Homo sapiens: one gene and its partners. The protein of the gene in region 1 interacts with the protein of each later gene in a biochemical or structural test. Each region holds a gene or a part of one and is shown on either strand. Other genes may lie near its edges. The genes, in order: KCNJ12, GOPC and PALS2.

What was found.
Region 2: the proteins of KCNJ12 (region 1) and GOPC interact in a test that uses a peptide from one of them, tested with the Homo sapiens proteins (one large-scale study listed by IntAct).
Region 3: the proteins of KCNJ12 (region 1) and PALS2 interact in a test that uses a peptide from one of them, tested with the Homo sapiens proteins (one large-scale study listed by IntAct).

Annotation. Positions count from the first base shown.
Region 1 is NC_000017.11:21,379,264-21,382,921, forward strand, and holds part of KCNJ12 (ATP-sensitive inward rectifier potassium channel 12), read left to right. Parts: intron 1-3,658. UniProt on the Homo sapiens protein: Inward rectifying potassium channel that probably participates in controlling the resting membrane potential in electrically excitable cells. Probably participates in establishing action potential waveform and excitability of neuronal and muscle tissues.
Region 2 is NC_000006.12:117,561,993-117,564,521, reverse strand, and holds part of GOPC (Golgi-associated PDZ and coiled-coil motif-containing protein), read left to right. Parts: intron 1-1,137; coding exon 1,138-1,268; 3' UTR 1,269-2,529.
Region 3 is NC_000007.14:24,677,800-24,681,457, forward strand, and holds part of PALS2 (protein PALS2), read left to right. Parts: intron 1-1,331; coding exon 1,332-1,534; intron 1,535-2,592; coding exon 2,593-2,721; intron 2,722-3,658.

The DNA of each region.
Region 1 (3,658 bases):
CGTGGCACCCGGAGGCCTTGGCATATGGCTGGGGCGGAAGTGAGTGCATCATTACTGTCATCAACCTCTGTGGCCCTCGCCAGGTCCCCAGGCAGAAGGCTACTGGTACACACGGTGCCCACCCAGTGGCCACCCTCACCCCCCCTGCTCCCAGGCCCAGCTCTGGGCTGGGCCCTTCCTCCAACAGGTGCAGCTGGTGCCTGTGGCTGGGCCCTGGCCAGGGCTTTACTGTGAGCGACACATGGGTACACCTGCCCCTCCCCGGGCCTGCCCTTGGAGCCCTGCCACCGGCTAGCGTGGAGGAGAGTCAGGGAGGGGGCAGCTTGCGGGCAGCAGGAGGGGTGGAGGCTTGGCTGGCCACATGGAAGGTGCGGTGGGTGGGGGCTCAGCCCCACGGGATGGCTGTGCCGGGAACTGGCAGCGTGATGGGGACACGGCAGCAGGGAAAGGCTGAAGATGAAAGAGAGCTGGCCTGAAACTGGGCCGTGTGCAGGTTGGCCAGAGCTTCAGAGGCACCATGGGGTTGGGGGTGGGGGGGGGCCTGGCAGAGGCAGGTGGGTTTTCTGAGGTGCTGGGCTCGGGGCAGGACCAGAGCCCCCGCTGGGCACTGGCCAAGGACCCAGCCCTGGGTCAGCTGACTTAATTTCCTAATGGCCTGCCAGTGCAGAGGGTGGCATTAGCTCTATTGTGCAGACAGGGATTGGAGGCCCAGGGAGGCACTGGAGGCACCAGCCTGTGGGGCTCAGACCCAGAGCCCTGGTGCTTTCCCAGGGACAGAACTGCACCTTCCCCCATTCCACAGACACACCCCTCAGGGGCATTTGACTGCCAGGCTAGCTTTCTCCCTGCCTTACCACCAGGCAGGTCCCACACAGGGCCTGAGGCCTGCATGCCATCCCAGCTCCCGGGAGCTGTATTCCTAGGACCTAGTTAAGCCCTGGCACAGAGTAGGTGCCCAGTAAATGCTCGATGATTCCATGTCTGGACTGCTTCTTCCAGCCACAGAGGCCTTGCTGTGCTGGTGAGAGCTGTGGGGGCTGAGTTCTGGGGCTGGAGACCCCAGGCCCTGTTGCCTAGCTGTGGCCCCTGTGCTGGGTAGCCATACAGAAGTGCTTAATCAATGGGCATTGCATACGGGGAGACCCAGCCCCTGCCCTCAGGGATCTCACTATCTCAGAGGAGACTCTTGGACAGACTCAGGGGGGCAAGAGAGGCAGATGTTGCCACCAAGATGGGGTCACTCTTCCTGGCCTCAGTTCATCATCTGTGAAGTGGGACTGGCTCCGGAGAGTGCTCAGGATGGGGCAGTAGGAATGTGAGACTTGGAGCGTGCCTCTGGGAGTTGGGGGTGGGGAGGGGCTGGTCTCAGTAGAAATGGACGTGTGGAGAGGGGGATCTGGGAAGGAGGGGGTGTGAGCATTTGTGGAGCCAGAGCCTGGGGAACTCGTCATTTCCCCATCCAACCTTCCCTTGGACATGTAGGGAAGCAGGCCCAGGGCAGGGCAGCGAGTTGCTGTAGCAGTGGGCCCCAGATGGCAGTGGGCCCCAGATGGCAGTGGGCCCCAGATGGCAGTGGGCCCCAGATGGCAGTGGGCCCCAGTGCAGGCCTCCTGTTTCCTGGTGTGTCCTCAGTGTCCCCTAACCCCAATCACCACCACTGGTGCTCCACAGCTCACTCCTTCCTGCCTGGCTGCTGAAGTGGCAGCATGAGGCTGTGGAGACCTTGGGGACCCCCGCCCAGCCCTCTAATTAGCCTTCAGCCATGCATCATTGGACATGGTTCCATTTGCTTGGCCAGATAGGAGTGGGAACCCCTTTCTCAGCTGCCCCAGGGAGCAGTTCCGCCTTGGCTGTGCATTAATGCTGTCCTAGGGTCAGTGGGCACAGCCTCCTGGATCCTGCCTGACTCCCCCTGCCCACCTGGACTGAGCCCTCCCTCCTGCTTGGGCAGCCAAAGCCTCCCTCTCCTGCCCTCACCTGCAGCCCAGGCCTCTTTGAAGGACTCAGGCTTGGAGAGGGGCCAGGGAACAAACAATAAAGCTTATGGAGTGGAGGCTTCTACCAGAGCCACTCTGGGCCATTGTTCCTTGAGCACTTTCTATGTGCCTGGTGCACTCTGGGTGTCAGGGCCCTCTGTCGATTCCCACCACACTCCTCCCTGGGACCCTCAGGGCCCTGCACAGTCTGGCCTCACTTCCAGGACTCTTGCTCCCTCCCCGGGGCCACGCTCCTGCTTGCCTTGCTGTGCTTCCAACAGATCAGGCCCACTCCTACCTCAGGGCCTTTGCACATGCTGCTATCTCTGCCTGGAATGTTCTTTCCCAGATCTCTGCACGGCCCCTCCCTTACCGCTTTCATGTCTTGCCCAGATGCCACCCTCTCTCCAGGACCTCCCCTGATTCCCCTGTGGGACACTGCAGCCTCCCTTTCCCCCATGTTCCTTTTCCTGCTTTATTTTTCTCTGTAGAACTTAATGCTATCTGCCACAATATATTTTATTTGCTGATCTTGTTTACTGTCTATCTTTCCCTTGGAATAGGATCTCCTCTTTTTGGACCTATTCTACCACAGCTGTGTCCCCAGTGCCTAAGCGGTAGGCAGGAGATGGCAGGCGCCCAGTAAACACAGAGAGTGAATGGGCTGCTTCAGCCAGGCCTGGTGCCTGACATGCAGTGAGTGCTTGGTAGCAATGGTAGCCAGCATTGTCAGCCCATTCTGCAGATGAGAAAACTGAGCCTCAGAGAGGTCACTGTCCAAGAACTGTGGCGCTTGTTGGTGGACAGAGCTGGATTCTGACCTTTTCTCTGAGCCTTTGGCCTGCCATCTGTCTGTCTGGCTGAGTGGGAGGGAGTTGGGGCTTCCTTCAGGCCCCTACTCTGGGTGGAGTGCTTTATATCTGTACCCTCACTGCTTCAAGCTCCAAGCCCTGTTGTGTCCTCTAGCACTTGGCCTGCTTCAGCTCAGGATGTCCCCATCTGATTCCTTCTGAGGATCACAAGCCGTTCCCATTGCAGATCCCAGCAAACTGAGGCCTGGGGCGTGGGGCCTCTCATATCTCAGCTGATGGCTGAATCCTTTCTCCTGCCTTCAGCATACATGTTTGGAGGGCGGCTGAGGGGATGGGGCTGGCAGGGAGGGGACAGTGTCTCTGTTTCTTGCCCAGTTAAGCATTCCAGACTCCCCACGGTCATTGAGTTTCATGTCAATGCATTTCACCTCTCCTTTCCAGTCTTTTTTTTGGAACATGACACCCACGTTATAAAATGTTTAAAAATGTTTATGATTTGCAATGATCAACTCCAGCGGCTTTAGTGGCCAGCAGTGATCACCTCTGCAACTATAGAGACTGGCATGCTTTCTGCTTGCCTGAGCACTGCCCGTCCCTCCTCCCCTGGATGTCCATGTTGCCTCAGAAAAGACAGGGCTGGTGGCCCCTTTTGTGGGGAGCAGATAGGTTCTGGTCCTGGGCCTCAGCCAGGTGTGCCCGGTTGGCCAGGTGTGCAGCCAGGTGTGCCAGGATGGGAGATTGTCTCCTGGGGCTCACCTGGGGAGTGGGGGCAGAAAAGGAAACCAGGTAACATGAGGACTGGCAGCAGGGATACTTCTCAGCCCTCCCTGCCTCCACCCCAAGGGTGTACAGGAGGGTGCGACGTGACAC
Region 2 (2,529 bases), on another chromosome or scaffold:
ATTTATTTATAAGCCTATTATTTATTTTATAGATGATCAGAATTCGTTTTAAGTTTTAGCTAGACATCATCTTGCCAACAAATTACATTTTAAGCAATTAACTAGTATATGCCTCAGTTAACTGAAGTTAATGTAATATGAAAGCAACAATGAAAAATAAAAATATAATTCACAGTTCAGTAGATATTTATATAAGTAGAATTGACTGAATTTTACAATTATATGTATTACTTCTAAGTCTTACAGACAGCTTGATGGTGGCTCATGCCTGTAATTCAAGCACTTTGGGAGGCCAAGGCAGGAGGATCGCTTGAGGCCAGGAGTTACCAACCTGGGCAACATAGTGAACCCTGTCTCTTCAAAAAAATTTTTAAAATATAGCTGGACATGGTGGCACATGCTTGTAGCTCCAGCTACTCAGGAGGCTGAGGTGGAAGGATTGCTTGAGCCTAGGAGGTCAAGGCAGCAGTGAGCCGTAATCATGCCACTGCAATCCAGCCTGGGCAATAGAGTGAGACCCTGTCTCAGAAAAAAAAAAGAAAAAAAAAAAAGGAAAGGAAAACTTGATAGGAAACTTAATACAATTTTTACATAAGCCCAATATAGTATTTTTAAATCTGTACAATATTTGATACCTGCCATAAGAGGGAAGAATTCCCCTGTTAGGAATTACTGATTTGATTAATATAAGGCATTATTTTTGCCTCAGATTACTAATGTTAATTACTTGGGCATTCCTTTGTTTTTCACTCAATAAACTTATACAACTAACTTTTTTTTTTTTTTTAATTTTTTTAATCGAGACAGAGTTTCACTCTGTCACCCAGGCTAGAGTGCGGTGGTACGATCTCAGCTCACTGCAACCTCCACTTCCTGGCTTCAAGTGATTCTCCTTCCTCAGTCTCCCAAATAGCTGGGATTACAGGCATGTGCCACCATGCCCGGCGAATTTTTGTATTTTTAATAGAGACGGGGTTTCACCACATTGTCCAGGCTGGTCTCGAACCCCTAACCTCAGGTTATCCACCCACCTTGGCCTCTCAAAGTGCTGGGATTACAGGTATGAGCCACTGCACCTGACCAAAACCAACTTTTTAAACCAGAAAGTGTCTGCTTTTTTTTTCTCCTTTCTTTCAGGATTTAATAAGAAGGCAGTAACTGACACACATGAAAATGGAGACCTGGGCACTGCAAGTGAAACTCCGCTAGATGACGGTGCTTCAAAATTAGATGATCTGCACACTCTGTATCATAAAAAATCTTATTAAATTGACCATATCTCCAGACAAGATTGTTAATCAGACTATTCTGAATTTGGGGCACTGGGGAAGATGGTGACAAAGACTACAAAATCAGGGGAGGCTGTTTGTTGCCTAAATGAAAGGCGGGTACCTCAGGGCTTCATGTGAACAATTCTCAATGCATAAAACACCCTGTTTTCTGTGGTAGACCATAATTAGCTATTGCATGTAAAGCAATTTTGATTTTCTTGAACTTGTAAGCACCAAAGCATGTGTTTCCCAAAGGGGTATTACTGGGCTCTTAAGTACCAAATGAAACCCTACTGTTTTACTTGGTTCCTTTTCCCTTTAGTAGGAGGACAGTGCTAACTGGAATTTTATAAGGAGTACCCTTTAAAATACAGAGAGTAAGTGAATTCATATTTTATATTCTAGAATGTTAACTGTGGTATTTCAGAAGACAGAGCTTGACTCAATGAATTGTAGAAATATAGGCTTGACTTAATTTTTGTAACTGAAAGGCTTTAGACTTAAAAAAATTTATTGTGCATCCTAAAATCTAAACCAATTATTAATGATCATTTATTGTAATGAGTTTGCATTTCAGCTTTATTCAATGCAGTACAAAATAGTTTTCTTTAAGCAGTCTTTTATCAATCAATGCTGCACTAGAAATAGATTCTCAAAAGTTACTAAACATTTTACTTTTTTTGTTTTTTAAAAGAAATGCAGATGAGTGTAAAACATCTGTTCTCAATTATGTTGATCTGTGTGCGCAGTACTGGAGCATTTACCCATTCATGTTGAGCCTCAAATGCTTGTTTTCTGGGGTCCACAAAAGACAGTTTTATACATTTTGAGTTGTTCATAAAGTTTGTCTTGTGATAGTCCTGGCACTTAAAGACAAATTTTTCTGGTAGTAAAAGTTCAGATTTATTACTATGTCATGAAACACAGTACATTCAAATCAAACGGCAGTTTTCTTTCTAAGTAAATGATTTCCAGTCATCTAAAAGGTGGGCAAGATGAGATAAAGACATTTTGATACAGTAATTGTTTTGGTTGGGTTTTCATGTCAGTTTATGTTTGACTAAAGCTCTCTTCATATGCAGGTTTATAAATTTGTTAGGTCTGTTGTCCCATGATTAAACATGGAGTGCCTCCTCTCTGATTTAATATTCTGCAGGTCATTGTAACCTGCTAGGCAAAGTCACAACATTGCATTAAAGAGGTGATAGCTTTGCTAATATCACTGTTTTAAAGGACGTACAGTTAAAGGAATATTAAG
Region 3 (3,658 bases), on another chromosome or scaffold:
CTTCACAGTAGTCTAAGACGACCACTCTCAAGGTTGAGCCAGAAAACAAGGGGAAAACAGGAGTCCTATTATACATAATGATCTCATTTGACCCTTATTTTTGAGCATGAGTTTGAAGTTCATTTTGTTCTTATAAAAGTTTTCTATGTCTTAGGCTTATTAGAAATAGTCAAAACACTGTCATCTTTTTATTCGGATTACTTTCTTAGTTTAGTTTGGTGTAGTTAATAATTCCATCAGTTATTCTCCAACTACTTAGCTAATAGAAACAGGATACTTCTTATATCCGATCCAGCAAAGCCCAGAGTAAGGCTAAGCTTGAAATAACACGCTCAAAAATTACTTTTCTTCTTCAAAGCTGTTGTTAACAAAGTTGTCAGAGAGTACACATTTGCAACAGTTTAAAAAATGGTAATAACCGTTCCTAGCACAGACCAACTTGCAAAGGGTTGTATGTCTCTGAAAGTATTCAAAGCTGTAAAATATCAGACAAAAGGATCTCCTACTTCTAAATTTTGACTTGAGCTATTCAATCTCATTTTCCCAGAAATAATATGTCAGGTCAGAGGAGAGGAGGTTAATAGACCATAATAATAATGAGGCGTCTAGCTCTACCACTGAAGTATAAAATAGAACAGTTAACATTTGGGAATATCAATAAACAGGAAGCTAAAAGCGTTGGTTTTGAGGTAAGATAAAAGATAGATAATTTGTGGGTAAAACTGCACTTTACAAAATTGGTATCACAACTAAGAACAGGTGAACTTTGCTTGCTCACGTTTTGGGGCAGTTAGGAAGTGTTAATGTGGAAAGAAAAGATGTAATAGATTCCTAAGGAGAAGGAGAGTGCTGGTCAGTTGAAAAGATACTCACTCACAACATGCCTCAAACACTTACCATAATTAAGAACTTCATTGAAGGCTCTGCTGCTAGGTAAATATACTTTGAGTTTCAAAGTGATTTTAAGAAGCATATTTTTGGATACAAATTTTATTTGGGGGACTACCTCTTAAAATATTCCCCTAAGGTATCAAGAAACTTTTCTATTAAAGGGCCACATGGTAAAGTTTTAGGCTTCGCAGTCCATACAGTCTGTCACAATTACTACCACCATTTTAATGGGAAAGAAACCATGTATGATACATAAACAAATGAGTATGGCTGTGGTCCAATAAAACTTTATTTACAAAAATAAGAAGCAGATCAGATCTGGTCATAGCCTACAGTTTGCTGCACCCAGTGGAAAAACGTTAAGCCACCCTATGTATTTTAGTCTATTTTTTATGCCCTAAAATTTCTTTGTACAAAAATCTCAACACTATTTTATTTAGTTACTTCACGGAAACCAAGGGAAGATGAAAAAGATGGCCAGGCATATAAGTTTGTGTCACGATCTGAGATGGAAGCAGATATTAAAGCTGGAAAGTATTTGGAACATGGGGAATATGAAGGAAATCTCTATGGAACCAAAATTGATTCTATTCTTGAGGTTGTCCAAACTGGACGGACTTGCATTCTGGATGTCAACCCACAAGTAAGCTGCTTGGATTCCAAAGCTGTTTTATATTTTATTTTCTGTGGAGTTTTTTTCATGTGTGTCGGGGTTGTTGGGTTGGGGTTGTTTGTTTTGTCAGGGTGGAAAGGTGACTCCCTCCATTACCTTTGGGTGATAGAGAATGTTATTATGTATACATAGCTAGTTAAATAAATCTCTGAACAATTAGCCAACAGAGGCTTGGGTGGCAATAGAAACTGTGTGATTAGATCTACAATAGAAGTTTAGTATGTATTTATTTACCTGTTCAAGTAATGCATAAGTGCTTGTGTTAAGAAATGTTAAGTTTAAAACTCAAGTCTGCAATATAAAGAATAAAAAATTAAAGTCACTCCCCCTCCTACCTGACACACATGCACACCTCTACACTATTCATTTTGTCACTCTATATTTCTGTCACCTACCCCTTCCCACTCCGCTACACTCAGCCCAACCTCACGTCCCTACTCAGAGATAAAAATTGTTAATAGTTTCTTATGTCTCTTTCTAGTCATTTCACTATGCCTTAAATACAAATATATATAAGGTAATGGGTTTTCTGTTTTTGTTGTTTCTTTTTACATAAATGGAAAAATTCTATATAGATTCTTCAGGGGTTTTATTAAATAGAACTATTCCTTGGAGATCTTTTTGTGGTAGTTACTGTAGAGCTTTTTTTCTTTGTAATTGCTATATAGTATGAATATATATTCATTTAACCACTCTCCAATTAATCAACATTGAGGTTATTTCTACTTTTTGAGTATTAACAGAATTCTACAATTAACATAAAAAAGAGTTTACATCACTCTTGATGATTTTTGGATCATTGTTTTATACTTTGTTCAAGAGGAACAGACTGAGTTCAAAACAAAATAAATGGATCACTGTTTTAAGAAAGTACTATATGGAATGAGAAGGACAGAACAGGGATAAGTATTAAGTTATGTCCTTTAATTCATAGAACAAGTGCAAACAGCCTTTGATATATACTAAAGGGTAGCAGAATTCTAGTTCTAATATTGTATAAATTGGCTTATAATTATTCTTTTACACAGGCACTGAAAGTATTGAGGACATCAGAGTTTATGCCCTATGTGGTATTTATTGCGGCTCCGGAGCTAGAGACGTTACGTGCCATGCACAAGGCTGTGGTGGATGCAGGAATCACTACCAAGCTTCTGACCGTGAGCTAACCATACGATTTTCCTTCTAAAATCTTTCCTTTTCTTTTGAGCATGTTTAACTGTTATCTAATTTATTTTTATTTATTTATTTTTGAGGCAGAGTTTTGCTTTGTCACCCAGGCTGGAGTGCATTGATGCGATCTCAGCTCGTTGCAACCTCCCCGTCCCGGGTTCAAGCGATTCTCCTGCCTCAGCCTCCCAAGTAGCTGGGATTACAGGCATGCGCTACCAGGCCTGGCTAATTTTTGTATTTTTAGTAGAGACGGGGTTTCACCATGTTGGCCAGACTGGTCTTGAACTCCTGACCTCAGGCAATCTGCCCACCTCGGCCTCCCAAAGTGCTAGAACTACAGGCGTGAGCCACCGTGCCTGGCCAACTCTTAGCTAATTATGCTTATGAAATAAACATGCTATATAAGGTGCTACAGAATGAAAATTAATTAGATGTAGTTAGGATCTGGAACAGTATTCTTTTACTTGAAAATCATTGTACACTTTATTTTAAATCAAAAGTTTAGTTCCCCTTTGTAAAATGAAATGGACCAATATTAAAATATGCGTATTAATTGAACGCCTTCATTTTACTAGTGGGGTAACTGGGCTCCGAGATCATTAACAGGCATGTTTATTATATGGTTTATCATTGGTAAAGTGGGGTGTTCTGATGTTTAGTTTCTATTACATGTTTTTTCCTTTTTTTCCTGTCTACTTTTTTACTTAATGGAAATTCAAAAATATATACAAAAGAGGGAATAAATGAGTCCCTATGCCGATCGCCTAGCTTCAATAATCGTGGCAATTTCTTGTTTTAATTAGACCCCTCCCCACTTCCTCCTCACCTTGAATTATTTTGAAGCAAATCTTTGATATCATGTCATCTGTAAATACTTCAGTATTTATATCTAAGAGATAAAGACATTTAAAACATACCATTAAT